Linked DNA regions of Homo sapiens. The protein of the gene in region 1 purifies or fractionates together with the protein of each later gene. This does not show direct contact. Each region holds a gene or a part of one and is shown in the gene's direction. Other genes may lie near its edges. The genes, in order: PRCC, BCAM, BRME1 and F11.

Region 1 (7,127 bases):
GTTTCATCATGTTGGCCAGGCTGGCCTCGATCTCTTGACCTTGGGATCCACCCGCCTCAGCCTCCCAAAGTGCTGGGATTAGAGGTGTGAGCCACCATGTCCGGCCCTCATTCTGTTTTACTGGAAAACTTTTATTATGATTACTTTCGAAAGGCTCATAGATGTACCAGTTACAAATTTCTTTTTTTTTTTTTTTGAGACGGAGTCTTGCTCTGTTGCCCAGGCTGGAGTGCAGTGGCGCGATCTTGGCTGACTGCAGCCTCTGCCTCCCGCATTCAAGCAATTCTCCTGCCTTAGCCTCCCGAGTAGCTGGGACTACAGGTGCACGCCACCACGCCCAGCTAACTTTTTTGTATTTTTAGTAGAGACGGGGTTTCACCGTGTTGCCCAGGCTGGTCTCGAACTCCTGAGCTCAGGCAATCCACCTGCCTTGGCCTCCCAAAGTGTTAGGATTACAGGCATGAGCTACCGCGCCTGGCCTAAATTTCTATTCTTTAAAATTTTTACTGAGACAGGGTCATGCTCTGTCACCCAGGCTGGAGTGCAGTGGTGCGATCTCAGCTCACTGCAGCCTCAACCTCGCAGGCTCAAGCGATCCTCCTCTTTCAGCCCTTCCCAATGAGGTGGGACTACAGGTGTGTGCCACCATGCCCATGCCCGGCTTTTTTTCTGTTTTTGTTTGTTTGTTTGTTTGTTTTTGTAGAGACAAGGTTTCACCACGCCTGGTCTCCAACTCTTAGACTCAAGGGCTTCTCCTACCTTGGCCTCCTTAAGTGCTGGGATTACAGGCGTGAGCCACCGTACATAGTTAAAAATTTCTTTTTTTTTCTTTTCTTTTGAGATGGAGTTTTGCTCTTGTCACCCAGGCTGGAGTGCAGTGGCATGATCTCTGCTCACTGAAACCTCCACCTCCCGGGTTCAAGCGATTCTCCTGCCTCAGCCTCCTGAGTAGCTGCTTTTTGTATTTTTAGTAGAGACAGGGTTTCTCCATGTTGGGCAGGCTGGTCTGGAACTCCTGACCTCAGGGGATCCGCCCGCCTCAGCCTCCCAAAGTGCTGGGATTACAGGCGTGAGCCACTGCGCCTGGCCTTGCCCAGTTACAAATTTCTACAGGTATAAAAGGGTACATAATGAGAAATAAATCCCCTTTCCTTCACTTTCATGAAGTTTCTATTATCAATTTCTTGCTTGAAAACACTTTTTGAGGATTTATACCCAATAAGGTGAATCATTAATTTTCACAGTAAGGGGATCCTCGCTTAGAAAACATTTGTTAAACACAGTCTGGCCAACATGGTGAAACCCCGTCTCTACTAAAAAATACAAAAATTAGCTGGGCATGGCGGTGCACACCTGTAATCCCAGCTACTCGGGAGGCTGAGGCACAAGAATCACTTGAAGCTGGGAGGTGGAGGTTGCGGTGAGCCAAATTTGCGCCACTGCACTCCAGCATGGGCGACAGTACAAGACTCTATCTCCAAAAAAAAAAAAAAAGAAGAAGAAAGAAAACATTTGAGACAGGTCCCTGTCCTTTAGGGGCTTCTCTGCAAGCTGGCAAGATGTGTTGACAAACAACAAGGACAATCATTTCTCTTAGTTCTAAGGCATTTCACTGTGTGTTAGTATCAGGCATTTCTCACAGAAGTAGGACAGGGCTCTGTAATACTTTATCCGCGCCCCCCCCGCCCTTTTTTTTTTTTTTGAGACGGAGTTTCACTCTTGTTGCCCAGGCTGGAGTGCAATGGCGTGATCTTGGCTCACCACAACCTCCGCCTCCCGGGTTCAAGCGATTCTCCTGCCTCAGCCCCCTGAGTAGCTGGGATTACAGGCGCCCGCCACCGCACCCGGCTAATTTTTATATTTTTAGTAGAGACGGGGTTTCTCCATGTTGGTCAGGCTGGTCTCGAAGTCCCAATCTCAGGTGATCTGCCCGCCTCGGCCTCCCAAAATGCTTGGATTATAGGCGTGAGCCACCGCACCCGACCTTCTTTATCCATTTTTCTTTCTTTCTTTCTTTCTCTTTCTTTCTTTCCTTTCTTTCCTTCTTTCCTTCTTTCTTTCTTTCTTTTTTTTTTTTTTTTTTTTGAGATGGAGTCTTGCACACTTGCCTGGGCTGGAATGCAGTGGCGTGATCTCGGCTTACTGCAACCTCTGCCTCCCGGGTTCAAACGATTCTCCTGCCTCAGCCTCACGAGTAGCTGAGCTTACAGGCGCCCGCCACCACACCATGCTAATTTTTGTATTTTTAGTAGAGACGGGGTTTCACCATCTTGGCCAGGCTGGTCTCAAACTCCTGACCTCGTGATTCACCAGCCTCTGCCTCTCAAAGTGCTGGGATTACAAGCGTGAGCCACCACACCCGGCCTACTTTATCCATTTTTCAAAGGAGGAAAGTGAGACTCAGAGAAGAGAAGTGACCGCACAGTCACCAGAGAGTACGTTGGGGAACCTAGATTTGAAAGCAGATTTTAGAAATCAACATTGTGCAAGGCATACTAGCTGTGAGGTAGGACTTGATGGTCTAGTTTCTCAATGTGGTCCTCAGTGCCTGGTTTGCAACTAACTGAGTAGTTTCTTACAGATCCAGGCTTCCAGGCCCAACCCACATCTATTGAATAGGAATCTCTTAGGCTAGATTTCAGGAATTTATATTTTTCAGAAGCTTTCCTAGTGATGCTTATGCACATTAAAGTTTGAGCACAGATTGCTCTAAGGAGCCTTCATGGAGAAGGCAGCATGGAGTTTGTCTCTGAAGGGTGGAGAGGTTGGGGAGGAGGTGCCCCATATCAGGCTCGTCTGATAGAGGATTCAAGCTTGGGCCTTTCACTGTCTCTCTGCATTGTGGTCATCATTGTCCCTCCTCATCAACCTTTCCAATTTTCTCTTCAGCCTCCTCCCAAAACCTCAACAGCCTTTTCTCTGGCTTCGCTCAACAGAATTTTCTGCAATCTGGGAACAGGGAGGTGGTGCCCACACAGAGATGAATTAGCATGTAAAGGACACACACATACAGGGCAGACAAGTAGAGGGCACTCAGTCACAGGCAGACAGGAAGGGGGCAGAGATGGGTAAACAAGAAAAGGATACAAAATCACAAGCGGACAGGGAAGGACTGGCGCACAGCAGATCATCACAAGCAGACATAAATGGGCTGGACAAGGACTCCTATAAACATGGATGGAAAGGAAGGGCACTTACAGAGACAGATGTAAGAAAGTCACATACAAAGCCATAAGAAGCAGCACTCACAGACGTAAAGGAATGTAAAGGACATCTGCAAATGGATAGGTGGGAGGCACAGCCAGGTAGGACGGACTCAAGTGATTCCTCAGAACGGTCGCCCTTTACCCCACTGAGCTGAGAAGGGATTAACCTCAAGTACCTGGCCCGGATTGTCAGAGCCTTGCCCATCTTTGTCTCACTGGTTGCTGCAGAGGGAGGCCAGGCCCCAGGCTCCAGGGTAAGGTGTGTTCCTGGATGTGCACCCCGATCCTGGTGAGGGAGATCACCTCCTCCCTTTTACGTCACATTTATTTCAACTCTTAGATGCTTATTATTAGACCTGCAGCCTCGCTTCTTTCTGGCTTGCAGCCCAATTTCGTACGGGTCCCTTGGGCCCTTGCTCTTTTTGGGATGTTTTATTCTAATTCCCAGTCCCAGCCGACTGGGAAGCTTCACCAGTTCATTTACAGATCACTTTGCCTTTAAGCAATTTTCCTCAATCCGCCAGCTTCCCAGACTCCCTTTCGTTCCCGACATCACTTGCAGTTTCTAAGAGCATCATATCTCCCAGAAATCTTAGTGGCCAAGGGGCTACCCTAGGGAACTTCAAGTACCGAAATGCTCTCCTGTCCGTCTCAGTGACTGCCGTGGTGACCGGTGGGGCTTGTAGTCACCTCGGAATTGTTAGGCGACGAAAAAAACTACTCACCCCAGGTGTCCCTGCGTCAGAGGCGGGTTTCTCTCCTGTCTCCCTTTGCTCGCCCCTAAATCCTTCCTCGGACTCCAACTCCCGCCGTGCCTTGCGCTGAGATCCCTGCGGCAAAGAACCGGGCTGTGTCCAAAGTGTTCTCTGGAAGTTGTAGTTCCTGTATTGGTGAGGCAAGGAGGAGGCGGAGTGACTCGGCGGCCATTAGCTGTGTGTAGTTGCCCGGGACTAGGAGCTTAAGTGAAGAGGTACGCCTTGTTCGGTGGAAATCAGCCGTAGCCATGAGTTTCTGCCGGGGCTAGCCCTAGAGTACGGAGCAGGCGGACTTTTCGGTTCCCCGCCCCGCCAGGTGGCGGGGCCTACTAGGCCTCCGGGCATCCCCGGTCTCAAGTAGGCCTCATCTGCCGGCAAGGGCGCCCGAAACGCGGGAGGCGCCATGTCGCTGGTTGCTTACGCCAGCAGCGATGAGAGCGAGCCGGATGAGGCTGAGCCCGAGCCGGAGGAAGAGGAGGCGGTGGCTCCTACATCTGGGCCCGCTTTAGGGGGCTTGTTCGCTTCTCTCCCTGCGCCCAAGGGTCCGGCCTTGCTGCCTCCGCCCCCTCAGATGCTGGCGCCAGCCTTTCCCCCGCCGCTGTTGCTTCCCCCACCCACCGGAGACCCCAGGCTTCAGCCTCCTCCCCCCTTGCCCTTCGGCCTGGGAGGCTTCCCCCCACCTCCAGGCGTGAGCCCGGCTGAAGCGGCGGGAGTTGGGGAGGGACTGGGATTGGGGTTGCCCTCGCCCCGAGGCCCTGGCCTCAATCTGCCCCCTCCAATTGGCGGTGCCGGTCCCCCGCTGGGGCTTCCCAAGCCAAAGAAGAGGAAAGAGCCCGTGAAGATCGCGGCGCCGGAGTTGCATAAGGGAGATGTGAGTATCCGGGGAAGGCACCCCCAAACTGTCCATCGGGTTTGAGTCGGCTGTAGGAGGGACATGTGGAGATTTCAGAACTCCTTCCTACAAACGCATCCGTGGATTCAAGGCCACTGGAATCCTCTTATAATGCGATTAATTGAGCTGAAGTTGGTCAACTTGGGGGAGTTTGGGTGTTTGCCCATGTGGGTTTCCTGAAGCTGGGCTTGCCTGCAGAAGGCCACATGTCATCATCACCTGGTACTGACAGGCCTAGGGACACTTGGATCCGCTCCCCCTTCTTTGCATCTTCACTTCAGTCCGGCTTTTTCCCCTTTCCTCCTACTGAGAACAGGATGAAATCTGGCACCTGAAGAATGACAGGAGACAGGGCTCCTGAACCTTTGCCGAACATCTGGGACAAATCTTTTCCTTGCCTCTGAACTCAAAAGCATCAGGCCTGGAGGAAAATGATAGCAATCTTGGTTTCTATTTTTGAGGGGAGTTAGAGGAGAAATCGAATATTTGTTTAGTGCAGATCATTTGCCGTTCATTGGTCCTTTCTTTCAATTATTACAGAGCTCTGGGAGGTAACATACTATTGTTTTACAGATGAGAAACAGGTGTCCAGCATGCACGATTTTACCTGGTAACAGGGCAGAGTGAAGATTAAGATTAAGGTTCAGTCTCTCTGAACCTCAGATCTGTGCCTCATATTCATCATTTAGCTATGGTCAAAGCTAGGTGAGTTAGGATGCTTGGGTACTGTTTCTAGAAGAGGCAGCGAGTCTTACCTGTTTCTATATGTGACAGTGGAAAAATACAAGGCTCCTGGAGTGAGGGCTTTGGAGATAAAGGAGAGATTAAGCCTTGGAGCAGGAACTGCTTAGAATTACTTACCGGAGAGAAATTTATTGCCCTTGCTTTTCTTCAGACTCCCAGCTCTGCCTAGGAGCCATTTCCATTCGTTGAACTTGCTGTTCCTTAAATTTCTTCTCTCAGATATCCTAATGTTCTCTCCCTCACCTCACTTGGCCTAAAAGGCCTGTTTTCGGTGAGGACTTCCCTAGCCTACTATGTATTTAAATTGCAACCTCCTATCACCTCCTCCTCCCCATTGCTCTTTGTTTTATTTTTCTCCATTGCACTTAACATCATCTGTCCTCCCACTAGTATATAAACTCCATGAAGGCAGGGATTAAAAAAAAAATTCACTGCTATAACCCTAGTACTTAAAACAGTGCCTGGCACATACTGAATACTCCCATGGATATTTTGTGAGTGAAAGAACTCCAATATGGATTTTTCATGGAAGGAGTTTCCAGAGTTTCCCTCCCAATCTTGTTTGAAACTTTCTTCCTTTTTTTTTTAAATTTTTTTTATTTTTATTTTTTTTGAGACGGAGTCTCCCTCTGTAGCCCAGGCTGCAGTGCAGTGGCACGATCTCTGCTCACTGCAAGCTCCGCCTCCCGGGTTCACGCCATTCTCCTGCCTCAGCCTCTCGAGTAGCTGGGACTACAGGCGCCCGCCGCCACGCCTGGCTAATTTTTTTGTGTTTTTAGTAGAGACGGGGTTTCACCATGTTAGCCAGGATGGTCTCGATCTCCTGACCTCGTGATCCACCCGCCTCAGCCTCCCAAAGTGCTGGGATTACAGGCGTGAGCCGCAGCACCCGGCCACTTTCTTCCATTTTATTTCCCCCTTCTTTCACACCTGAGAGTCTCTCATCCTAAGTCTAGGATCCAAAAAAAAAAAGCCTTTTATTGCTCCATGGAAACTTACTTTGGCTTTGATTTAACCTGGAACAAGGAAAGATCCCTGAATGAGACAAATAAAAACAGTCTACATGGACATGGAAAGCTCATTTCTAGCTCTGTGAAGGTAGCATTATAGAAAGTTGGGAGAGGCCGTAGAATCTGCCATTTGGGTTGGCTGAGGTGGCAGAAAACTCTGAAGACTAACACTCCCTCCTTTGTAAGCATTCACTAAATTTCTGAGGTGAACAGTAACATGGCTAATTAAAGTCCTAGCCCTTGCTGGTTGAGTTTCCCATTTTTGTTCTGTTCAAGTTGGTCTTTTGGTTCTCGGAACACATAATTCCTGCAGAAAGGTAGCCTAAGAATGTTCAAGATGGTCAGGTGAGGGTAACCTTTGTCTTTATTTATCTTTTGAGATGTAGTTTCGCTCCTGTTGCCCAGGCTGGAGTGCAATGGCACAATCTCAGCTCACCGCAACCTCCGCCTCCAGGGTTCAAGCGATTCTCCTGCATCAGCCTCCCGAGTAGCTGGGATTACAGGCATGTGCCACCACGCC
Region 2 (7,245 bases), on another chromosome or scaffold:
AGGAGAAGGGATGGGACCGGAATGAGATGGAGAAAAGGAGACAGGAAAAATCAAGAACTGATAGGGAATGGGGGCAGGAGAAGGTGGGGAGGGACAGAGGGACCAGGGAGACCCATAACAAGAGGAAAAGAGGCAGAGCCAGGAGCTGCAGAGAGAAAGGACCCAGAGAGAGAGAGACTGAGGAGCGCTGGGACACCCGGAGCTGAGAGCCTGCCCCGCGCCCACAGACCGACCGCTCGGGAGCTCGCCCCCGCCTAGCCTCGGCTGAGATGCAGGGCTCTGAGCTCCAGGTCACAATGCACGACACCCGGGGCCGCAGTCCCCCATACCAGCTGGACTCCCAGGGGCGCCTGGTGCTGGCTGAGGCCCAGGTGGGCGACGAGCGAGACTACGTGTGCGTGGTGAGGGCAGGGGCGGCAGGCACTGCTGAGGCCACTGCGCGGCTCAACGTGTTTGGTAAGTGTCCTCGGGCATCCCCCGAAGGGAGGCAGGCAGGGAGGGGCGCAGGGCAGGGGCTCCTGACGTGAACGTCTTTTTCACAGCAAAGCCAGAGGCCACTGAGGTCTCCCCCAACAAAGGGACACTGTCTGTGATGGAGGACTCTGCCCAGGAGGTACCTCTCGGGTGGACCTTGGCCCCAGGGTCCTGGAGGAGGAGGGGACAGGGCCCTGGACTCCTGGGTCTGAGGGAGGAGGGGCTGGGGACCCCTGGGTAATAAAGGAGGAGGGGTAAGGCCAGGCGAGGTGGCTCATGCCTGTAATCCCAGCATTTTGGGAGGCAGAGGCAGGCGGATCACCTGAGGTCAGGAGTTCCAGACCAGCCTGGCCAACATAATGAAACCCCGTCTCTACTAAAGATACAAAAATTAGCTGGGTGTGTTGGTGTGCAACTGTAATCCCAGCTGCTCGGGAGGCTGAGACAGGAGAATCACTCGAACCCAGAAGGCAGAGGCTACAGTGAGCTAAGATCACACCACTGCACTCCAGCCTGGGCCACAGAGCAATACTCCGTCTCAAAAAAAAAAAAAAAAAGAAGAAGAAAAGAAAAAAGAAAGGAAGGGCAGAGGGGGAAGACTCCTGTGTCCTAGGAAGGAGAGAGCTGGGGGACCCAGAATCCTTGGTCCCTGGAGGATGGTGCTGGAGGCCTGGACTCTTTAGTCTGAGTCGGGGACTAGGAATTTGGACTCCTGGGTCCTGGGAGAGTCGGGAGTTAGGAGCCCGGCTCATGAGTCTGAGTGGGGAGAACTCCTGAGAGAGGAGCCCCGACTTCAGAGTCCCAGCTCCAAGCCCAGGGCCATGCCCGTGTCTGCCTCAGATCGCCACCTGCAACAGCCGGAACGGGAACCCGGCCCCCAAGATCACGTGGTATCGCAACGGGCAGCGCCTGGAGGTGCCCGTAGAGATGAACCCAGGTGAGCAGCGCAGGAGCGCGGCGGGACGTGGGCTGGGGTGGGTGGCGGGGCTATGGCCTGGCTGACTGCCACCTCCCCCGATCTCTCCCAGAGGGCTACATGACCAGCCGCACGGTCCGGGAGGCCTCGGGCCTGCTCTCCCTCACCAGCACCCTCTACCTGCGGCTCCGCAAGGATGACCGAGACGCCAGCTTCCACTGCGCCGCCCACTACAGCCTGCCCGAGGGCCGCCACGGCCGCCTGGACAGCCCCACCTTCCACCTCACCCTGCACTGTGAGTCTGTGCTGGCCTTTGACCTCTGACCTCAGGCTCCACACCTCATGAGGCCTGACCCTCCACCCGGGGGCTTCACACTCCCCTCTGACCCTCTGCCTCCCTACTTCATGCTAAAAAAAAATGTGCTAGTGCTGGCCACTGACCTCTGACCTCAATTGGTCGCACAAGCCCCATCCTGACCTCTGACCTCCGACCTCCACTTAGCACCCTGGACCCCATGAAGTTTATGACTAAATGGTGCTTTCCACCTTCTCACACTGAATTGGGTCCCCCCATGACATCTGGCTCCAAGTCTCACACTGACCCATCGCCCATACGGACCTCTGACTCTTGACCTATACTCTTAGTTTATTTCAACCTCTGAACTCTGGCACTCAGAATAATTGTGAACCTGAGGCTTGAAACCTATGACCCGTAACCTTTGACCCGCCATAGCCCTCACCTGGGATGCAGGGCTGACCTCTCGCCTGTCCTCTAGCCTTGACCCTTCCCCTGATCACAATTCCCATCTCCCTGCCCTTCCCTTAGATCCCACGGAGCACGTGCAGTTCTGGGTGGGCAGCCCGTCCACCCCAGCAGGCTGGGTACGCGAGGGTGACACTGTCCAGCTGCTCTGCCGGGGGGACGGCAGCCCCAGCCCGGAGTATACGCTTTTCCGCCTTCAGGTGACCCACCCAAGGGTCCCTCTGGGATCCACCCCCCAGCCCCTGACCTCTGTGACCTGCTAACCTGCATAACTTCTAATGTGGGACCTGGGAGTCCCCATGGCTTAGGCAGCCACCTGATCTGGTGGCCCACGAACTAAAAGGACCTCTGACCCCTGATTTGAGAGAGTCAGGACTTAGCATGCCACCTGACTTGATGGCCCCTGACCCCTGATTCTGGCTTAGCATGACACTAACCTGGTGGCTTCTGACCTAGCATGAGCCCGCTGAACCGGGGTGGCTTCTGAGCCTGGTTCCTCGTCCCCCGTCTCCCAGGATGAGCAGGAGGAAGTGCTGAATGTGAATCTCGAGGGGAACTTGACCCTGGAGGGAGTGACCCGGGGCCAGAGCGGGACCTATGGCTGCAGAGTGGAGGATTACGACGCGGCAGATGACGTGCAGCTCTCCAAGACGCTGGAGCTGCGCGTGGCCTGTGAGAGCCCTGGGTGAACGGGCGGGCAGGAGGGGCCCTGGCATCAGTGCCTCTGCGCCCTCCTCCCTACAGCCCTGAAGTTGCTCTGTCATCCCAAACACTCTGCCTTCAACCCTTTCTCTGCATTTCTTGGGGGTTTTTTTGGTTGTTTTTTTTTTTTTTTTTTTCCCAGAGACAGGACCTGGCTACGTTGCCCAGGCTGGTCTCGAACTCCTCATGCGATCCTCCTGCCTTGCTCTCCCAAAGTGCTGGGATTACAGGAGTGAGCCACCGCATCTTGTCGAGAGCTCTTTCCATAGCACAGACCTGACCCTCCTCTGCTCAGAATCTGCCATGGCTCCCCAGTACCCTTGGGAGAAGCCCAGGTGTCTCACCATGGCCTTCAAGGTCCACCTGGCCAGTTCCACCATTAGCTAGCTGATCCTTCTCCCCAGTCAAGGCTATCTCCTCATCACCCCCCAGGCTCCTCTGGTTCCTACCTTCACTGCCCATCCTTCCTACCGTCTATTTCTCACCAATCCCTTGAATCCCAGGCTTCTAAGAATGATTTTCAGTTCATTCGCATCCAGGCCCTGGGGAAAGGCTGTATTCTCCCTTGGCACTTCTTACATATCCCTTCCTGGGGTAGACCCTGCGCCAGATGCTGGGGACACATCTGTGAACAAGACAGACCACCCCTGTTATTTCAGTAGGGGAGACAGATGGTAAATGCTAACTAAGCCCTTTCGTAACAGTAGTGTATCTACAGGTGATATCACCAGTGAGAGAGAGCAGGAGAGGGGATTATTTTAGGTGGCAGGTGTTGCAGTCTGCTTTCCTGAGAAGCAGATTCTGACTTGGATGTTTTCAGGCAAGAAGTTTATGGGAAGTACCCTGGGTTCCGCACCTCTTGGGTCTAGGGAGGTAAAGGAAGCAAGATTTGGCAAGGTGAGAAGTTGGACTGAAGTCTAAGGAAGGTCTCAGGCTGGGTGCAGTGGTTCATGCCTATAATCCCAGCACTTTGAGAGGCTGAGGCAGGAGGATTGTATGAGCCTAGGAGTTTGAGGCCAGCCTGGGCAACAGAGGGAGACCCCATTTGCACACACACACACACAAATTAAAAATTAGCCAGGCATAGTGGCACACACCTGTAGTCCCAGCTACTCGGAGGCCCAGGTGGGAGGATCCCTTGAGTCTGGAAGGTTGAAACTGCAGTGAGCCAAGATTGTGCCACTGCACTCCAGCCTGAGCGACAGAGAAAGACCCCGTCTCAGGAAAAATAAAAATAAAAAAGTAGGCCGGGCCCCGTGGCTCATGCCTGTAATCCCAACACTTTGGGAGGCCGAGGTGGGTGGATCACCTGAGGTCAGGAGTTAGAGACCAGCCTGGCCAACATAGTGAAACCCCCTCTGTACTAAAAGTTAGCCGGGTGTGGTGGCATGCACCTGTAATCCCAGCCACTCAGGAGCCTGAGGCAGGAGAATCGCTTGAACCCAGGAAGCGGAGATTGCAGTGAACTGAGATCGTGCCATTGCACTCCAGCCTGGGCAACAGAGTGAGACTCCATCTCAGAAACAAATAAAAGAAAGAAAGAGGGCCTCAGTCAGCCCCACGGGGTACTTGGAATCCAGGATGGCCCTTCACAGTTGTCCCCAGTTGGGGTGAGGGGGCTGGGCCTTAATAACCTCTACATCAACCAGTCCTCAGAGGTGTGCTGGCCTTAGGCAAGGGGCTCTCAGCAGCTGAGGCAGCTCCCAGAGAGGGGTGACAGCTGCAGGCTGACAGCTGTCATCCTTCTTAGCAGCTGGTGGAATAAGTCCTTCCGTGCTGTAGGAAAGATCTGGGTGTCCACAATAGGGGAGGTCAGGGAAGCCTCTGAGAAGAGACATTTAAGTGAGACTCAGAAAAGCAGACAGCAGCCAGGCACAGTGGCTCACACCTGTAATCCCAGCACTTTGGGAGGCCGAGGCAGGTGGATCACCTGAGGTCAGGAGTTCGAGACCAGCCTGGCCAACATGGTGAAACCCCATCTCTACTAAAAATATAAAAATTAGCCAGGCATGATGGCTGGTGCCTGTAATCCCAGCTACCCAGGAGACTGAGGCAGGAGAATCGCTTGATCCTGGGAGGCGGAGGTTGCAGTGAGCTGAGATCGTGCCACTGAACTCCAGCCTGGGTGACAGAGCAAGAGTCTGTCTCAAAGAAAAAAGAAATTGGCCGGGCACGGTGGCTCACACCTGTAATCCCAGCACTTTTGGGAGGCAGAGGCGGGCAGATCATGAGGTCAGGAGTTTGAGACCATCCTGGCTAACACGGTGAAATCCCGTCTCTACTAAAAATACAAAAAATTAGCTGGGCGTGGTGGCAGGTGCCTGTAGTCCCAGGTACTCGGGAGGCTGAGGCAGGAGAATGGCATGAACCCAGGAGGCAGAGCTTGCAGTGAGCTGAGATCCCGCCACTGCACTCTAGCCTGGGCGACAGAGCCAAACTCTCTCAAAAAAAAATAATAAGAAGAAGAAATGCAGAGAGCTACAAAAAGAGCACTGCAAGTAGAGTGAGCAAGTGCAAAGGCCCTGAGGCAGGCCCCAACTTGGTCTACTCAAGAAAAACAGCAAGAGAACGGGGTAGCTGGGAGCACAGGAGGAATGGGGAAGAGTGGGAGATGGTTCAAGAGGTGGGTGAGGGCCAGACCAGGCAGCATCTTTTAGGCACCCTCAAGAAGTTTGGCCTCGATGCCAAGGGTACTGGGGAGCCACTGCAGGGTTTTATGCAGAGGGGAGGGATGACCAGTGGGTGGTTGGTTTTTTTTGTTTTTTTTTTTTTGAGTCAGAGTCTCACTCTGTCACCCAGGCTGGAGCGCAGTGGCACAATCTCGGCTCACTGCAACCTCCACCTCCCAGGTTCAAGCGATTCTCCTGCCTCAGCCTCCCAAGTAGCTGGGACTATAGGCATGCACCACTATGCCCAGCTAGCTTTTGGATTTTTAGTAGAGATGGGGTTTCACCATGTGACCAGGGTGGTCTCGAACTCCTGACATCAGGTGATGCACCCGCCTCGGCCTCCCAAAGTGCTGGGGTTATAGGCATGAGCCACCGTGCCCGGCCTGACCAGTGGATGTTTTAAAGAGGTCCCTCTAGCTGCTCAGTGGAGGATGGACAAGAGGGAGGAGCAGGCTAGTGAAGAGGTGGTTGGGACAGTCAAACCTGGGGCCAGAGGTGGCAGGAAGCCAGAGGATTTGTCCTGGGAGCAGACCAGATAAAGACTTGCTGAGGCCAGGAGCAGGGGCTCACGCCTGTGATCCTAGCACTTTTGGGAGGTCAAGACAGGAGGATCACTTGAGGCCAGGAGTTTGAGACCCAGCCTGGCCAACATAGCAACACCTTGTCTCTATTCAAAAACAAAACTTTGCAGAAAAGATGTTTGGGGGTAACAGGGAGGTTACCCCACAGGTTGGGGTTTGAGCAAAAGGTTTGTGTGCTAAAGTCACAGAAGGGACACCTTCCACACCTAAGGTTATTCATTAACCTTGGGCTCAGATGTCAGCTCTGAAGAAAAGTAATTGACTTGGGCATGTCAATGTTGGGGTTAGACTGCTAGATTTTTGGTTGGAGAGCCTGGATGGGAGAATGGAGATTTCATGGAGATGGGGTAAACCAGGAGGATTACTTGCTGTTCTCTGCTTCCAACTGTCCATTCATGTTTGCACCCCCGACCGCCCCTGGAGAGCCCCTAATTGAGTGGGTGGCGGTCTGGGACGAGTGACAGACTGTCCCCCACTGCAGATCTGGACCCCCTGGAGCTCAGCGAGGGGAAGGTGCTTTCCTTACCTCTAAACAGCAGTGCAGTCGTGAACTGCTCCGTGCACGGCCTGCCCACCCCTGCCCTACGCTGGACCAAGGTGAGAGGGAGAGGAGCCCCCTCGGGCCCTGCACTCGCACCCTCCTCTCTCCCCTCACTCCTCGCCCTCTCACAGCGTCCTCCTCCTCCTCTGCCCTTCCCAGGACTCCACTCCCCTGGGCGATGGCCCCATGCTGTCGCTCAGTTCTATCACCTTCGATTCCAATGGCACCTACGTATGTGAGGCCTCCCTGCCCACAGTCCCGGTCCTCAGCCGCACCCAGAACTTCACGCTGCTGGTCCAAGGTTCAGGGGGCAGGGAGGGGGTGGGCTTGGATGGGGACAGTGTGGGGTGTGGGACCTGGACAAACAGGACGAGTTCCTGAGTCCCTGGCTGGGGACTCCATCTTCTGCTCGATGCCTCTCTTCTCTCTCTCTCTCCTCTCCCTTCACTTTCTTCCCATCCCCACCACCCACAGGCTCGCCAGAGCTAAAGACAGCGGAAATAGAGCCCAAGGCAGATGGCAGCTGGAGGGAAGGAGACGAAGTCACACTCATCTGCTCTGCCCGCGGCCATCCAGACCCCAAACTCAGCTGGAGCCAA
Region 3 (7,245 bases), on another chromosome or scaffold:
GGACGCCTCTGACTTCGAAGCCCCACCTGAGCAGGTGAGAGCTGCCCTGAGTGACAGACATACCTGCCCAGGGCAGGCACCCAACCTCCACAAGCCCCCTCCTCACTCGGTGCAGTGGCAGAGGGGGAGCTGGGGCTCAGGGCTTACCATTTACACAGCCAACGACTATAGGAGTCCGAGTTGCAGCTCTACTGGGTGTGGAGTCGGTGGTTTTCCAGAAAGTGTAGACCTGCCTTTTGGTGGTTGTCGACATATCTAGGGATGGTGACACACAGCTGCTTTCTCAGCCGGGCCCCCCACATTGAACTGGAGTCCCCAGGAGTGCCAGCCCCTGGCAGCTTCTGCTTCAGTGCCTGACCCTGGCCGTGGGGTCCCAGGGGATGTATTGAGGCGGGTAGACACAGATGGAGAGAAGCTGGGCCTGGGGATGGCTTTATACCTGGGCCTGGGGAGGGGGCTTCACTCCCAAGCTGCAAAAGAGCCTTTGCCCATCTCCTTAGGGTCCTCTGGGGGTCCTGATATGATTCTTTTCCAAACATACATAAGTCATTTTGTTTTTCTGCCAGAACGTGTAAGGGCTTTGCCTCCTTCAGGGATCTGCCCGCCCCACCGGCTGCCCGGATGTGGCCTCCTCTGGCTCCAGAGCCGGTGCCAGCCGTTGGCGTTCATTCTCCTGTCTGGGCAGATGGCAGCCTTGCTTCAGCCCTGCCCCCCAGGGAAAGAGCGACCTCCCTAGCCGTTGGCACACCTGAGCCTGGGCTGAGGGCATCACAGTCACGCCCAGGGAGGTAGGCAGTTCTCTGTCCACACACTGGGTGTGGCAGTGAAGACTCTGGAGGAGTTCGTGCGCCTGCTAGAGGTGAGGCAGGTGGGAGGGGAGGAGGCCAGGCTGGCACCCAGGTCATGCCCCAGCCGCCGCGTCCTGGAACGCAGAGTCCAATTTGCTTTTCAAATGTCAGCCTCTGTTTCTTTGGCTGTCCCTGTGTTGAGATGTTAAAAAAAAAAAAAAAAATTCATGGCCAGGCACAGTGGCTCCCACCTGTAATCTCAGGACTTTGGGAGACCGAGGCAGGAGAGCAGGACCAGCCTGGCCAACATGGTGAAGCCCCATCTCTACCAAAATACAAAAATTAGCTGGGCATGGTGGCGTGTGCCTCTAATCCCAGCTACTCCGGAGGCTGAGGCAGAAGAATCACTTGAACCTGGGAGACTGAGGTTGCAGTGAGCCAAGATCGCGCCACTGCACTCCAGCCTGGGCAAGAGAGCAAGACTCTCTCAAGAAAAGAAAAAATTAGCCAGGCATGGGGATGCATGGCTGCAGTCCCAGCTACTTGGGAGGCTGAGGCAGGAGAATCACTTGAGCCCAGGAGTTTGAGGTTGCAGTGAGCCGAGATTACACCACTGCACTCCAGCCTGGGTGCTGAACTCCCTGTCTCAAAAAAAAAAAAAAAGTGAGTCACAGTGTGGTTCAGTGGTAGAGGCTGAACACGAGCATGTGGGAAAGGCAGGAGTTCTGGTGCTGGGCACAGCTGAAATTTTATGAGAGCTTCATGCCTTGCAAAATGCAAATCCCTCGCTTGAGAGAAGAGCCGCCTCCATTGCCTCCAGTCTGTGGTCTCGTGAGTGGTGGCTTGGAGAGAAGGCTGGGAAATGGTTAAGGTGTTTGGGGCCAGGTGTGCCTAGGTGGCATCCAGCAGGTGAAGCCCCTAGCCCTCCTAAACGGGCTGCCAAACTGCAAGCTTGGAAAAAGACCCTGAAATCCAGACTTGGGGGGATCCAGACAGACAGCCAGGCTGGTCAAACCCGACCAGCATTAGCAGCCTTTCCCCAGCCAGGGGAGGAGGCACCGCCCTGACAGCACTGCCAGGGCCTGGGCGTGTTTGGCTTTGACACGAGGCGTTCCCCAGCAAGTTGAGGCGACCCAGGCAAGGAACACATTCCCGTGGGAAGGTTCCGGGTGGCTCCCGGCAGGAAGGCCGAGGCCCGTGTCTCCCAACATGGGCAGGGGCACGGGGAACAGCAAAGATGGATCGAGCGGGCCGTCTCAGCACCTCCTCCTGACCTCACTGTGGCCACACACTGTGCTAGAGGAGGGGACTCAGAGGTGACACAGCAGAGACAGAGCTTTCAAACCTCAAACCAAGGTCTCGTCATGGGAGGGTTTGGTGTTACTTTCTCATAGATCCTTTGCACTCACTCTTGGACTGATGGAGCTTCTGCAATCTGCATATGGAGTCATTTAATTTAAATTTTAGAGACAGGGCCTTGCTCTGTCGCCCAGGCTGGAGTGCAGTGGCACAATCACAGCTCACTGCAGCCTCAACCTCCCGGGCTCAAGCAGTTGATCCTCCTGCCTCAGCCTCCCAAGTAGCTAGGACCACAGGTGCGTGCCACCATGCCCAGCTAATTTTTTTTTTTTTTTTTTGTACAGACAGGGTCTCGCCGTGTTGCCCAGGCTGGTCTGGAACTCTTGGCCTCAAACAATCCTCCCACCTCAGCCTTCCAAAGTGCTGGGATTACAGGTGTCCCCAGCCTGGCTCATTGCCTCTTTTCTGAGGGACATCATAGGTCACCACTGTAACGGAGCTTAACATTTTCCATGGAAATTAAACCACCATTGACGCTTAGAAGCTTAAGCGCCGTGGAGTTACCAGGCTTTCCCCTGTATTCACTGGGAGTTTTCCCCTCGTGTTATATTTGCAAACTCCTTTCCTAACAGGATGTCTGTGGCACATTCAGCCAAGGTAGACGACTCCACTTCACCGCAGTTGCCCCCGCTTTGTGTTTTCTCTGTACCCGTAAAGACAGTGAGGGGCATGCAGGAGACTGCAGTGGTGTCAGGGCCAGAGATCATGGCACAGTGGTGCCCCCACTGCCCAGATCAGCCTGTGGGAGGCCCGGGCCTAGGAGCGGACACCAGGGTTGGCTGTGGCCTTTCTCTTTCCAAGGGGAAAGGACGGGCGCAGCCCAGGCTGGTAGCCTCGGGTCTACCCATCGTGGATTTCCTCCCCGTTACCGCTCTTCCTCTGCAGGAGTCCCAGCCAGCCCCGATGTGACCTGCTGTGGCCGCGGTGAAGCCAAAAGCATCAGCGTGACTTCTGGTTCCCCTGTGCAGAGCTTGCCCGACCCAGGCCTCGACCACTCACACCTTGTGCTCTCTTTCCAGCTCTTTCCTTCGGGGAACAAGCCGGGCCCTTGCTGGCCGGGCCCCAGCTCACATGCCAATGGAGACCCTGTTGCAGTGGCCAAGGCCCAGCCGAGGTAGGTGTGGCGTGGGTGAGAAGTGGCTCCAGGACCCTCACAAATTTTACCAAGGAGGGTGACAGATGGAGGAGACAGACCCCAGTTCTCCCTCCCTGGGCCTCGACTTCCTCAGTCCAGCAGGGGAGCTGAGCCCTGTCTTTCAAACTGTATACATTCCCCTGCTCCCCGAAAGCAGAGAATGGGCGACAGTGACCAGTGATCGACACCCAACCCAGCATCTCCCCACCCAGAAGCTCCCCAGGAGCCCTGGGACAGTGCCTCCGGCTCTGTGGGCTCTTTCTCTCTGGGAAGAGGGGCCAAAGCTTCCTCCTGAGTCCCTGGGAAGGGGAGGGGACCCAGACAGGGCTCAGAACTGTTGGCTGAGACCATCTTGGAGCTGTTCCTAGCTCTGGCACCAGGCGGGCACCCGAGTGAGTCTAACCTGCCCTCACCTCCTCCCCTCCCCACTTGGCTCTTGCCCTAGGCGAACCACCTCCTCCCTCCCACAGGCCACCAGTGAGCCGTCCTCCAGCCTGCTGTGTGTGAGGAGGGCACCCTCTCCCCCGCACCATGCCCGGGGTCTCCGCAGCCTGTCCCCTCCTCCCGTGCCCTCCCACAGCCCTCCTCGAAGCCAGCGCTGGGTGGCTGCCCTCTCTGTTACCTGGCACTTGAACCTGCCTCTCTGCAGAGGCGGCAGCTTATCAATTATTTATGGCCAAGTTTCTGTTTCTGTCTGGCAGGGGTGGAGGAGGGTTTGGGACTCAGCCCTTGGCTGTGTGTGGCCCCCACACCCTCCTCCTCCTTCTCCTCCCCTAGCAGAGGGCGGCTCTGTCCCTGCCTCCTGCCGTCACTCCCTGTGACTTGTACCTGCTGTGCCACTGGCCACCTCCCTTAGCCACACACACAACCTGCACGTGGACCAGAGGCAGTTCATCAGAGCGGCCCGCTGTGGTTTGAGTGAAGAGCCGGGAGGGTTCACATCTGAATCTCCGACAGCGTCCCAGGGCCAATGCAGCTCCCCTCCCCACCGTCCTGGATGTCTGGAAGCTCCCAGAGGGCCCCGGGTCTGGTTTGGTGGCTTGAGGCTGAATGACACACACAAGAGGCTAAGACCCAGGGGCTGCCAGACACCTCAGGGTGACCAAGGCAGGAGCAGCAGGACAGCAGTTTCCATAGTGACAGCCCCGGAGGTGCTGCGAAGCCTGGGGCATGGGCGGGTTTAGGGCGGGTGGCCCCCACTTACCCGCCTGGCCACCTGTACTGCCTGTGTCTGAGAGTGGCACCTGTTCTGTGGGGTGGGGGAGGTGTTCTGTGGCTCCTTGGCTCTTCCGTGATTTTTTTTTTTTTTTTGAGACACAGTCTTACTCCCATCACCCAGGCTGGAGTGCAGTGGTGCAACCTCAGCTCACTGCAGCCTCGATCTCCCAGGCTCGCATGATTCTCCCACTTCAGCCCCCTAAGTAGCTGGGATTACAGGTACCCGCCACCACACCCGGCTAATTTTGTATATTTTTTTTTAGAGATGGGATTTTGCCGTGTTGCCCAGGCTGGTCTCAAACTCCTGGATTCAAGTAATCCACCTGCCTCAGCCTCACAAAGTGGTGGGATTACAGGCATGAGCCATCGTGCCTGGCGGGATATTTTTTAGATAGAGTCTTGCTCTGTTGCCCAGGCTGGTGTACAGGATCATAGCTTACTGTAGCCTCCATCTCCCAGGCTCAACTGATCCTCCCACTTCATCCTCCTGAGTAGCTGGGACTACAGGCGCGCACCACTATGCCTGGCTAATTTTGTATTATTTGTAGAGATGGGGGTCTCACTACATTGCCGAGGCTGGTCTTGAATTCCTGGGTTCAAGCCATCCTCCCACCTTGACCTCCCAAACCTTCCAAGGATATGAATGCCATCTGGGCTGGCCTTTCTAGCACTGCCCTGGGTGCTGGGGAGGCAGTGTGGGACAAAACACAGAGTTGAATGCTACTGGGGGATTCGGGGTGTGGGGACATGAGAGACAGCAGATTAGATAGTCAGATGGCAGAGTGTTGGGGAAAAAAAGGCAGCGGAGAAGGGGTTAAAATGTAAGGAGGAATCAGGGAAGCCACCACCAGGAGGAGACATTTGGGAAAGAACATTCCAGAATCCTGAGAGGTGCTCAAGGAATGGCCAGGAGTCTAGTGTGGCTAGAGCCGAGGGGAGGGGAGAAGCGGGGGATGAGGGGAGGGCACGGGGCAGGCAGGTGGTGCACAGCTGCGGGAGGAGAGGGCTTGCCTCTGAGCTAGGTTTCCAAGTTCACAGCCCCCAGTGCCTGTGGGGGACAAGCCACAGGGGCAGGAGATAGGGAGGCGGTGGCAGCAGCGTCCTGAGAGGGCAGGGCAGGTAGGGGAGAAGCGGTTGGGTTCTGGGCCTGCTGGGCAGTGGAGCCAGCTGGGTTGGCCATCAGGGTTCTGTCGTGAACAGAGGAGGACAGGCTGGACACCTGGAAAAGATGGCGCGAGGCCCTGCGGAAGCCCCTCCCACTGGAGAGCTCTGGTAGTCCAGTGAGGTCGGGCCACTCTCAATTTCCTTCCCTGCTGGCCAGGACCTTCGTGGGGATCCAGGCCTCTGAGGCCTCCAGGATGGAGGATGCCACCAACGTCGTGCGTGGCCTCATCGTTGAGCTCTCCAACCTGAAGTACGGGGTGGGCTTGGACTCACGGCACAGGGTCTGCGGGAGGCCAGTGGGGACTCAGAGGAGCAGGGAGGGACTGAAGTGTGAAGCCCCTAGGTGGGCAGCGAGGGTCAGGCACCTCACTGCTGCTGGGTCCTCACCGTGGCCCCCCTCCCCCGTCCTTTGCAGAACACAGGCTCTGAAGAAAGGCTGCAACAGGCCCAGCCTGTGCTACAACAGGCCCTTTCTGGTTATGTGCACGTGTGTGAGCCGTGTGTGTGCACCTGAGTCATTGGTGACCATGTGGCTGTGAGGCGCGGCCCCCTCTGTCACCTGGTGACCACTGAGCCCCACACGCATGCCTGTGTTTCCCCCACAGCCGGCTGATCATGGGCACCCACCGGGACCTGGAAGCTTTCAAGCGCCTTAACTACCGGAAGACAAAGCTGGGAGGCAAAGCCCCCCTGCCTTACCCTTCCAAGGGGCCTGGGAATATCCCTCGAGGGGACCCACCCTGGAGGGAGTTGTAGGCCACTTTGAGGTCTGTGTTTCCTTTGCCACCCAGCCCCCATGTCCGCAGACCTCCTCCAAGATGCTCCAGGGGGTCCTAGTGGACCCTACAAACCTCCCTTCAGTTGCCCGGAAGTTGGTCTTCCATGGACAACACAAAGGAGGCCGTGAGGTCCTGGCCTCACCTGGCCAGGGTCAAGGTCATTTGCCACCCTTGGCTTCAGGGAGGGAAACTGTGTCTCCCACAGCCCCAGTGACTTCAAGCGGGCCTGGGCTCCAGGAAGCTGGCCACCTCTGAGCAGGGCCCATCCTGTCCGGATTTGCAAATTTTAGGGTCCTGAGCCAAGTATGGATGGTTCAGAATTTGTTTCTTTCCTGGAGGAGAAGAGAGCTCCCTTTGTTTTCTTTCTCCCCATTTCCATTTTATTTCTTCTGGGAAGACCCATAATAAATGATTCTGTAGAGGCCCCGTGACCTGCTGTTTGGGGCTGAGGCTTCAGTTCCTTCACCTTCCGCCCACAAACCTCTCTACCCACTTCCTCCTCCTCGCCCTCTACGAGTTTTATGCCTCAGCTTCCCTGGGAAAGCAAGGGGGGGGCGAATCTCCAGGGGTGGGTGACTGTGTGCCCACATCTGTGTGCAGGCTCTTGAGCATACACGCGGGTCGAAGCCTAAGAGACGCCCTGGGCGATCATCCAGCTGCAGGGTGAGTCCTGCGCTCCGGTGGCTTGGCCCATCCTCCAGGACAAGCTGCCTGTGGGCCCCAGACAGGAAGGAGGCCATCCCAGGAGGTTATGGATGCAAACATGGCTGAAGTCGTGGCATTTCTCATCCCACGCAAGCCT
Region 4 (7,978 bases), on another chromosome or scaffold:
TAGTGCATATCATGGGCATCCAGTAAACGGCTAATGATGATGATACACCTTTATTACAAAAATAAAGGCAATGGAGACTGAAGAGGTGAAATGATTAGCTCAAGGTCACTGGCAAGGACAGAGCTGGAACAAAGCTCAGCATTCCTATGCCAGGCAATGTCCTCTCACTGATATCCGGTTGCTTCTCACTAGGAGAAGGATGAAAGATGACAGAGCATTTATAACCACCATTTGTTATTTTCATTATCAACTGACACTGGTGTTTCTCTGCCCGGAGCGATTTTGTCCTCCCTTCACCTCAGGAAACATTCGGCAACGTCTAGAGACACTTTTGGTTGTCCTAATGGGAGAGGGTATGCAACTGGCTGTAGTGGGTAGAGGCCAGGGATGCAGCTAAACATCCTGCAGTGTGTGGGACAGCCCCTCGCAAGAGAGAGTTATCCTGCCCCAATATCAATAATGCCAGGGTTGGGAAAGCCTGATCTCATGTCAGCATTAAAACCTTGTAATGAAAAGAGGACATTTCGGCCGGGCGCGGTGGCTCACGCCTGGAATCCCAGCACTTTGGGAGGCTGAGGTGGGCGGATCGCGAGATCAGGAGATCGAGACTATCCTGGCTAACACGGTGAAACCCCGTCTCTACTTAAAATACAAAAAAAAAAAATTAGCCGGGCGTGGTGGCAGGCACCTGCAGTCCCAGCTACTCGGGAGGTTGAGGCAGGAGAATGGCGTGAACCCGGGAGGTGGAGCTTGCAGTGAGCCGAGATCACACCACTGCACTCCAGCCTGGGCGACAGAGCGAGACTCCGTCTCAAAAAAAAAAAAAAAAAAAAAGAAAAAGAAAAACAAAAGAGGACATTTCAGGAACAGCAAGAAAGGGGTTGTAGGACATGGCGGGCTGTGCCCTTTCTCTTCCTTTATTTTTTACTTTTTGATACATTCTATTTGTACATATTTGTGGGGCACATGTGAAATTGTGTTATGTGCATAGAATGTGTAATGATCAAGTCAGGATGTTGGCATACCCATCACCCAACCATTTCTATGTGTTGAGTACATTTCAAGTCCTTTTCTAGCTATTTAGAAAACTATAATACCTTGTTGTTGACTGCAGTCACCCTACTCTTCTGTCAAACATTAGAAAGCATTCCTTCTATCTAACTCTGTGGTTGTACCCCTTCACCAACCTCTCTTCGTCCTCACCACCACCCCCCCACACACACCCTTCCCAGCCTCTCGTAACCACCATATACTCTCTACGGCCATGAAATCATCTTTCGTGGGATCATGCAATGTTTGTCTTTCTGTGCTTGGCTTACTTTACTTAACATAATGACCTCCAGTTCCATCCACATTGCTGCAAATGGAATGATTTCCTTCTTTTTTATTGTGTCCATTTTCAAAGCAAGTTCTGAAAGACAAGAGAAGGAGCTCTGAGAGTTGATTATGGCCATGCCTGAGAAGGGGTCTCAGTCAACTAATGCCGTTGTGGACATTCCTGTCCCAAGCAGAAGGCTTTAGGTCACAATATGTCCAAATGTCCAATACATCTCCCACCTATGATCCATTGGAAAGAAAACAAACCTCGGGACCCCCAAAATCACTAAGCCACATGGAAAAGTAAAGCTGGGAACTGCATTGGGCAAACCTTCCTCCCATTCTATTCCTAAATAAAATAGCTTTCTTAAGCTATAAAAAACCTTTTTTAAGCTTTAAAAAGGTTTTAAAAAGCTACATTCCTCACAATTTGCCCATGAGGAAATTCCTTGTGGAAAAAGGACAGGCAGAAGTCAGAGTCACCCCTCTGCTGACATGAGACAGGTGCGTATCTGATTGCCTCGTTTGCCATATTGTTTCACTGGGCCACACTAAGGCATGAGTGACTATTCTTGTAAATTGCGTATTTGGTGAAAGGCTAATTGGAAACTCGAAAAAATGCTTCTGTTTGTCTCTTATCTACCTATGACCTGGAAGCCCCCTTCCCTTCTTCGAGTTGTCCCACCTTTTAGGACCAAACCAATGTACATCTTGCATAGATTGATTGATGTCTTATATCTCCCTAAAATGTACAAAATCAGCTTGGGCCCTGACCACCTTGGACACATGTCATCAGGACCTCATGAGGCTGTGTCATAGGTACATCCTTATCCTTGGCAAAATAAACTTTCTAAATTGATTGGGACCTGTCTCAGATACTTTTTGATTTAGAATCCTAACTTCTGACTTGTACTTGGGTCTCTGCAGACTAACTTCTATATTCTTCCTAAGACTTTGTCTAGTTATTCCTCATTTTCATCAGTCTTCGAATATTCAAAAACATTTCATTTCATTGAAAAAAAATTGAAAAAAGTAGTTGATATCAGAATTTTAAACTGCAATGCATTAGTTGAAAATAATTTTTTAAGGATATCTATGGTCAGTTTAAAAGAAAGGTCTATTTAATCTCAAAGAGTTTCTATGTAGTCAAGACTTTTATTCTAGGCTGGGCACGGTGGCTCATGCCTGTAATTCCAGCACTTGGGAGGCCAAGGCAGGTGGATCGCTTGTGCCCAGGCATTCCAGACCAGCTTGGGGAACACAGCAAAACCCTGTCTCTACAAAAAATACAACAATTAGCCATGCGGAGTGACATGCGGCTGTATTCCTAGCTATTCAGGAGGCTGAGGTGGGAGGATCACCTGGTGGCTGCGTTGAGTGGAGATCACACCACTGTACTCTCGTCTGGGCGACAGGAGTGAGACCTTGTCTGAAAAAAAATTATTCTACTTTTATTTGAATAGACAAAATTTTTTTGAATCCTGATACTATTTCAAAGACCTTAAAGATTTCACTAACTAGCTAAATCAAACTTAGGAAAATATTATTTGGTTTTCCAGTGAAGCATTTCTCTTATTTAGAGCCTTTCTGTTTCTCTCAATAGGGTTGGAGAGTTATCCTTATCTTCTTTTTATTGGGGCTTAAGAAGAGAGATGAGGTTCCATGGAGTAAACAATACAAGGATATAAGGACCTCATATAATCTCACGTATCCATTTTCCATGAAAGCCATTCTTGGCACGAATTTGCCATTCTATGTTTGAGCCTCATAAAAGGCAATGCATCATAAATATGCACTTTTTGGGTAGCTGGAATGTACTTTAAACGGGAAACTCAAGAAAACAGCTAGGAACTCTTTATGCCAGGATAAGTCAAATGCACTGGCAATAGATCAAATAAAAATATCTGAGTAAATGCCTTCCAGATAGAACATCACCCTAGTTCTTCAGCACTTTACAAAAAGATCTGTTCTCAGTTCACATTCTCTTAATTCCCTGTCATTTCTCCCCGGTCTTCCAAATATGTTTTTTAAATTATGATTCCATGTATAAACACAAGATCGTATTTTGCTTTTCTATGAAAAATTGAGAGCCTTCTCTGAACCATAAACGTATCTTTCTCCAAAATGTATTCAAATCAGGCATATTGAAAACTGTTTTGTGTTCGTGTTGTGAGGTTTTTTAGGGGACCGCACAGAAACCCTCAGCACTAGTTAGTGCCTTGTGTTCTAAATGAGGAAACGGAAGCCAAGGACCTGCAGGTGGCTGGGGACTGTGCACAGGCTGGTTCCGCTCAAGTCACATGACTCGTCAGCCAGTGAGTAGGTCTGGGTAGCAGTTGGCATGGATGAACATGCCCTCCATAGGCTTTCAGACCTTCTTCAAGGCCAAAGGGAAGGCCTTCATGGAAATATAATTATGTGAAACACCCCAGAATTTTTTCACAAACTTTCCTGCCTATAAACGCCAGGTCCTACCACTGTCCAGTGTCCCACTTCCCACTGTCCAGTGGGAAGACTCCCTCCAGGACAAAACCACCCTTTCCTTCAGGGATGTGACGTGCTGTGCTTTCGTTGACAGTCATGCAGCTGCTAGACATGTCACTTCCTAGCTCTCCATTCGGGTCTGTGTCCCAGGACCTAAAGAAAGCTAAAAGAAGCCGGGCGTGGTGGCTCATGCCTGTCATCCCAGCATTTTGGGAGGCTGAGGCTGGCGGATCACTGGAGATCAGGAGTTTGAGACCAGTCTGACCAGCATGGTGAAACCCTGTCTCTACTAAAAATACAAAAAAAGAAAAGAAAAAAGAAAAAAAAATAAGCTGGGCGTGGTGGCGCGGGCCTGTAGTCCCAGCTACTCCGGAGGCGGAGGCAGGACAATCACTTGAACCTGGAAGGCGGAGGTTGCAGTGAGCTGAGATCGCGTCATTGCACTCCAGCCTGTGCGACGAGAGACTCTGTCTCAAAAGAAAGAAAGAAAGAGAGAAAGAAAGAAAGAAAGAAAAGAAAGAAAGAAAGAAGAAAGAAAGAAAAGAAAGAAAGTAAGAAGCAAGCAAGCTGAAATAGCTTATTTTTCTGTTTTAAAAAATAGACTTTTAGTGTTCACAAGTAAGAATAAAAAAAAAAAAAGCTTGGCCTTAGGAGGAATCCTATCTGCTTAGGCCTCTGAGAGGCAGCGTCACCTGAAGGGAAACTGACTGGGCAAGAGCCAGGCTCTTAGGAGCTGTCTGTACTTTGCTTCCCATCCGTCCGCTCTCCCCCAGCAGCCAAAGTCTCCTCCCTCCATTATATTGCAAATCAATGAATCCATTAGACTTTCCATGTTTTCTTTTTAGACTTTGAGATTCAAGGTCAGCTAGAATTAATGGTTAACAGCTGACAGGTGAAAGTGTGGTTAAATGCAGCTTTGGCTAGCAGGCACACAGGCAAAATCAAGTTCTACATCTGTCCCTGTGTATGTCACTTGTTTGAATACGAAATAAAATTAAAAAAATAAATTCAGTGTATTGAGAAAGCAAGCAATTCTCTCAAGGTATATTTCTGACATACTAAGATTTTAACGACTTTCACAAATATGCTGTACTGAGAGAGAATGTTACATAACATTGAGAACTAGTACAAGTAAATATTAAAGTGAAGTGACCATTTCCTACACAAGCTCATTCAGAGGAGGATGAAGACCATTTTGGAGGAAGAAAAGCACCCTTATTAAGAATTGCAGCAAGTAAGCCAACAAGGTCTTTTCAGGTACAGTTTCAGAACTTACTATTTAACATTCCTCTCAAGCAAATACGCCTTGAAATGCTTTTTTTAAATCATAGGAATTTAAAAACACTTTACAATAGAGAATGATTGATTTTTAAAATGTGTCTGATTTAGCTTTGTAGAGATGTTCCGCTAATATCCATAACTAATCTGAGAGGAAATGTGGAACAACAGAAGAGTAACAGTGTCTACTCAGTAACAAGCGTTTTACGAGTTAAAAAGACATCCAAATGCAGTACTGAAAAATCAGAAGTCTTGATTTGTCTCACTGATGACTCCGTTTTTCCTAGAGCAGTCTGTTTAATGCTTACTGGAGATAAATAGATTTATAGGTGACCAAGACAATCGATTAATGTATCAGCCACAGACTTTTTTAAATAGAAAATTTTCTAAGTAGGAAATCATTCATAGCTCTTTGAAAGATATAGGGAGAGGCCTCAAGGAAAGAAAGAAAGGAAAAAAATTGGGAAAGGAAACAAAGATGAAAAATTGGGGTGGGGAGAGCGGTCAGATGGTGGCCATGAGAAGGATCTGAACACAGAGAGCGGCGGGGCCGGCGGGGAAGGAGGGAGGAGGGGAGAGCGCTGCTTCCCTGTGGGTTCCGGCTTCTGCAGAGCTGTAAGAGTTGAATGCCACACACAGTCACACTAAGGAATGCTCCAGGATTGGGAAAGAAAATTCAACATTATAATGAGAACACTGTGAATGCTATTGAATTAACTACTCCCCTCTCTCCCTATTTCTTGTAAGTCTTAGTGTCAGTAAACTAATTATAAATTTACATTTTATGTTCTAAAAGCATGCACCTTTTTCTCATTGTAGGATGATTTTCTTATATCAAGTGGTACATTTCATTTTATTTACTTCAGTTTCTGGTGGTAAGTAGAGTGTTATCTTAACTATGGGCTGGGAGAGGGAAATCACACTGCAATCTCCACACATGTGGGAGAATCCCACACCATTTATGCCGGGAAGGAAATAAAATGTTTTTATTAACTTCCTGCCTGAGGCTCCAGAGGTTTTCAAAGCAGGGTAGGAATTGAGGTGAAAAAATTGTTTGTACTGGTAGGAATCTGTGTCTATATGTGTACCATATCTACATCCATGCCTACATACATCATTCATTTAAATGATATTTAAAAGCAATATTAAAAAGAAGAAATCTTGATTTGCCTCACTAATTAGTTGGTTTTTCATAAAGCAGTCAGTTCAATGGAACATACACACACACATAAAATAGGAATTTTGTACTGAAAAATGTTATGTAACTATTCATACACAGTTTATGCATTTCAATAATTTAACTACCCTGTTAATTCTCCACCCTATGTCACATCTGCTAAATTTGTTTATAAATTACTTAGCCAATATTAAGTAGGATATATCAGTACAGGTATTGTTTAGTTCCATGACCATTCTTTATTTAAAATGAAAGCTGAAGCATTCCTTTAGAAAAATAGCTTATGTCTACATGTTATATTTAATTTCTGATACTATTGCTAGCATTTTAAGCATAGTAAATTCTTTTTGCTGGCCTATGTGAAAAAAGGCAAACCTAGGTGAAGATATTAAAAGTAAATTCCACTTAATATATTAAATTACACAGCTCATAATTTCAATTTTCTCTGTGACAAGACTACTGCTCAGGTTATAATATTCCTTTGTTATAATTATCTGGAAATTGTATTGTTATTTCATTGATAAATATGTCAGCGCTAAATAATTTGATATATTTTGAACACTGGACCCAATAACTACATAAACAATTGACCCTGAATCAGGGGTTCCACATCCATGGATTTAAACAACATTGAAGTGAAATTTTTTAAAAAAAATTATATCTGCACTCAACATGTGCAGAGTTTTTTCTTGTCATTATTCCCGAAACAACACAGTATAACAACAATTTGCATAGTATTTACATTGTACTAGGTATTATAAGTAATCTAGAGATGATTTAAAGTACACAGGAGGCTGTGAGTAGGTTATATGTAAATACTATGCCATTTTCTATCAGGGACTTGAGCGTTCATGGATTTTGGTATCTGCAGGAGGTCTGGCAGCCAATCCCTCATAGATATCAAGGAATGATAGTGTACATATTTAGGTCCTTTATACATGCACATGGAACATTTACAAATATTGACCACACACAAGCCTCTGAAACAAGGCTCAACAAATTTTAAGGGGTTAAAATTATACTGATCATGTTATTCAATCACCGTGAATGGGAGCTAGAATAATAATAAAAAGGGAATTGAAAATCTGCAAACGTTTGAAAATTGAGTATTTATAATCACCGTGAATGGGAGCTAGAATAATAATAAAAAGGGAATTGAAAATCTGCAAATGTTTGAAAATTGAGTATTTATACCTTTTTAGATTAAGATGAATCAGAGATGAAATCACAATGGTAATTAGAAAAGGAATTGTACAATAATGAAAGTACAGTATATCAAAACTTTGAGATGTAACCGAATCAGTGTTGAGATCAAATGTATAGATTTACATGTATACATTAGAATACAGAAAAGGGAAAAATTAATGATATAAGATGACAAGAAGATAGAGAATAGCAACTTAAGTGCTAAGAAATTAGAAGGCAGAAAGAAGAAATCGCAGAAATTAATTAAATGGAAGACACACATATTTGAGAGGTCAACATAACCCCTTTCTAGCCCATTTTATAAGGTCAGGGTAATCTTGACACCAAAATCTGATAGGAAAATTCTGAGGAAAAAAAGTCACAGGTCTTTTATCTTATGAACATATGTACAAATGTCCTAAACAAAATATTATCCAACTTAACCCAGTAGATTGTTAAAAAAATTAAAGGATGATTACATTGTGATATTGTGACAAAGTTGGGTTTATTCCAGGAATGAAAAGTTGATTTAACATT

The links.
Region 2: the proteins of PRCC (region 1) and BCAM purify together in Homo sapiens (affinity purification with mass spectrometry; 2 studies listed by BioGRID and IntAct, with this or other methods). This does not show direct contact.
Region 3: the proteins of PRCC (region 1) and BRME1 purify together in Homo sapiens (affinity purification with mass spectrometry; 2 studies listed by BioGRID and IntAct, with this or other methods). This does not show direct contact.
Region 4: the proteins of PRCC (region 1) and F11 purify together in Homo sapiens (affinity purification with mass spectrometry; 2 studies listed by BioGRID and IntAct, with this or other methods). This does not show direct contact.

What each region holds. Positions count from the first base shown.
Region 1 is NC_000001.11:156,763,408-156,770,534, forward strand, and holds the start of PRCC (proline-rich protein PRCC), read left to right. Parts: upstream 1-4,127; 5' UTR 4,128-4,364; coding exon 4,365-4,832; intron 4,833-7,127. UniProt on the Homo sapiens protein: May regulate cell cycle progression through interaction with MAD2L2.
Region 2 is NC_000019.10:44,811,936-44,819,180, forward strand, and holds part of BCAM (basal cell adhesion molecule isoform 1 precursor), read left to right. Parts: intron 1-227; coding exon 228-456; intron 457-542; coding exon 543-613; intron 614-1,314; coding exon 1,315-1,411; intron 1,412-1,502; coding exon 1,503-1,685; intron 1,686-2,216; coding exon 2,217-2,353; intron 2,354-2,668; coding exon 2,669-2,825; intron 2,826-6,586; coding exon 6,587-6,702; intron 6,703-6,805; coding exon 6,806-6,947; intron 6,948-7,120; coding exon 7,121-7,245. UniProt on the Homo sapiens protein: Transmembrane glycoprotein that functions as both a receptor and an adhesion molecule playing a crucial role in cell adhesion, motility, migration and invasion.
Region 3 is NC_000019.10:13,881,977-13,889,221, reverse strand, and holds the end of BRME1 (break repair meiotic recombinase recruitment factor 1), read left to right. Parts: coding exon 1-34; intron 35-3,166; coding exon 3,167-3,261; intron 3,262-3,727; coding exon of another isoform or gene 3,728-4,103; exon of another isoform or gene 4,104-4,719; intron 4,720-5,821; coding exon 5,822-5,914; intron 5,915-6,269; coding exon 6,270-6,420; 3' UTR 6,421-6,874; downstream 6,875-7,245. UniProt on the Homo sapiens protein: Meiotic recombination factor component of recombination bridges involved in meiotic double-strand break repair.
Region 4 is NC_000004.12:186,261,238-186,269,215, forward strand, and holds the start of F11 (coagulation factor XI isoform 1 preproprotein), read left to right. Parts: upstream 1-4,951; 5' UTR 4,952-5,058; intron 5,059-5,898; 5' UTR 5,899-5,899; coding exon 5,900-5,954; intron 5,955-7,978. UniProt on the Homo sapiens protein: Factor XI triggers the middle phase of the intrinsic pathway of blood coagulation by activating factor IX.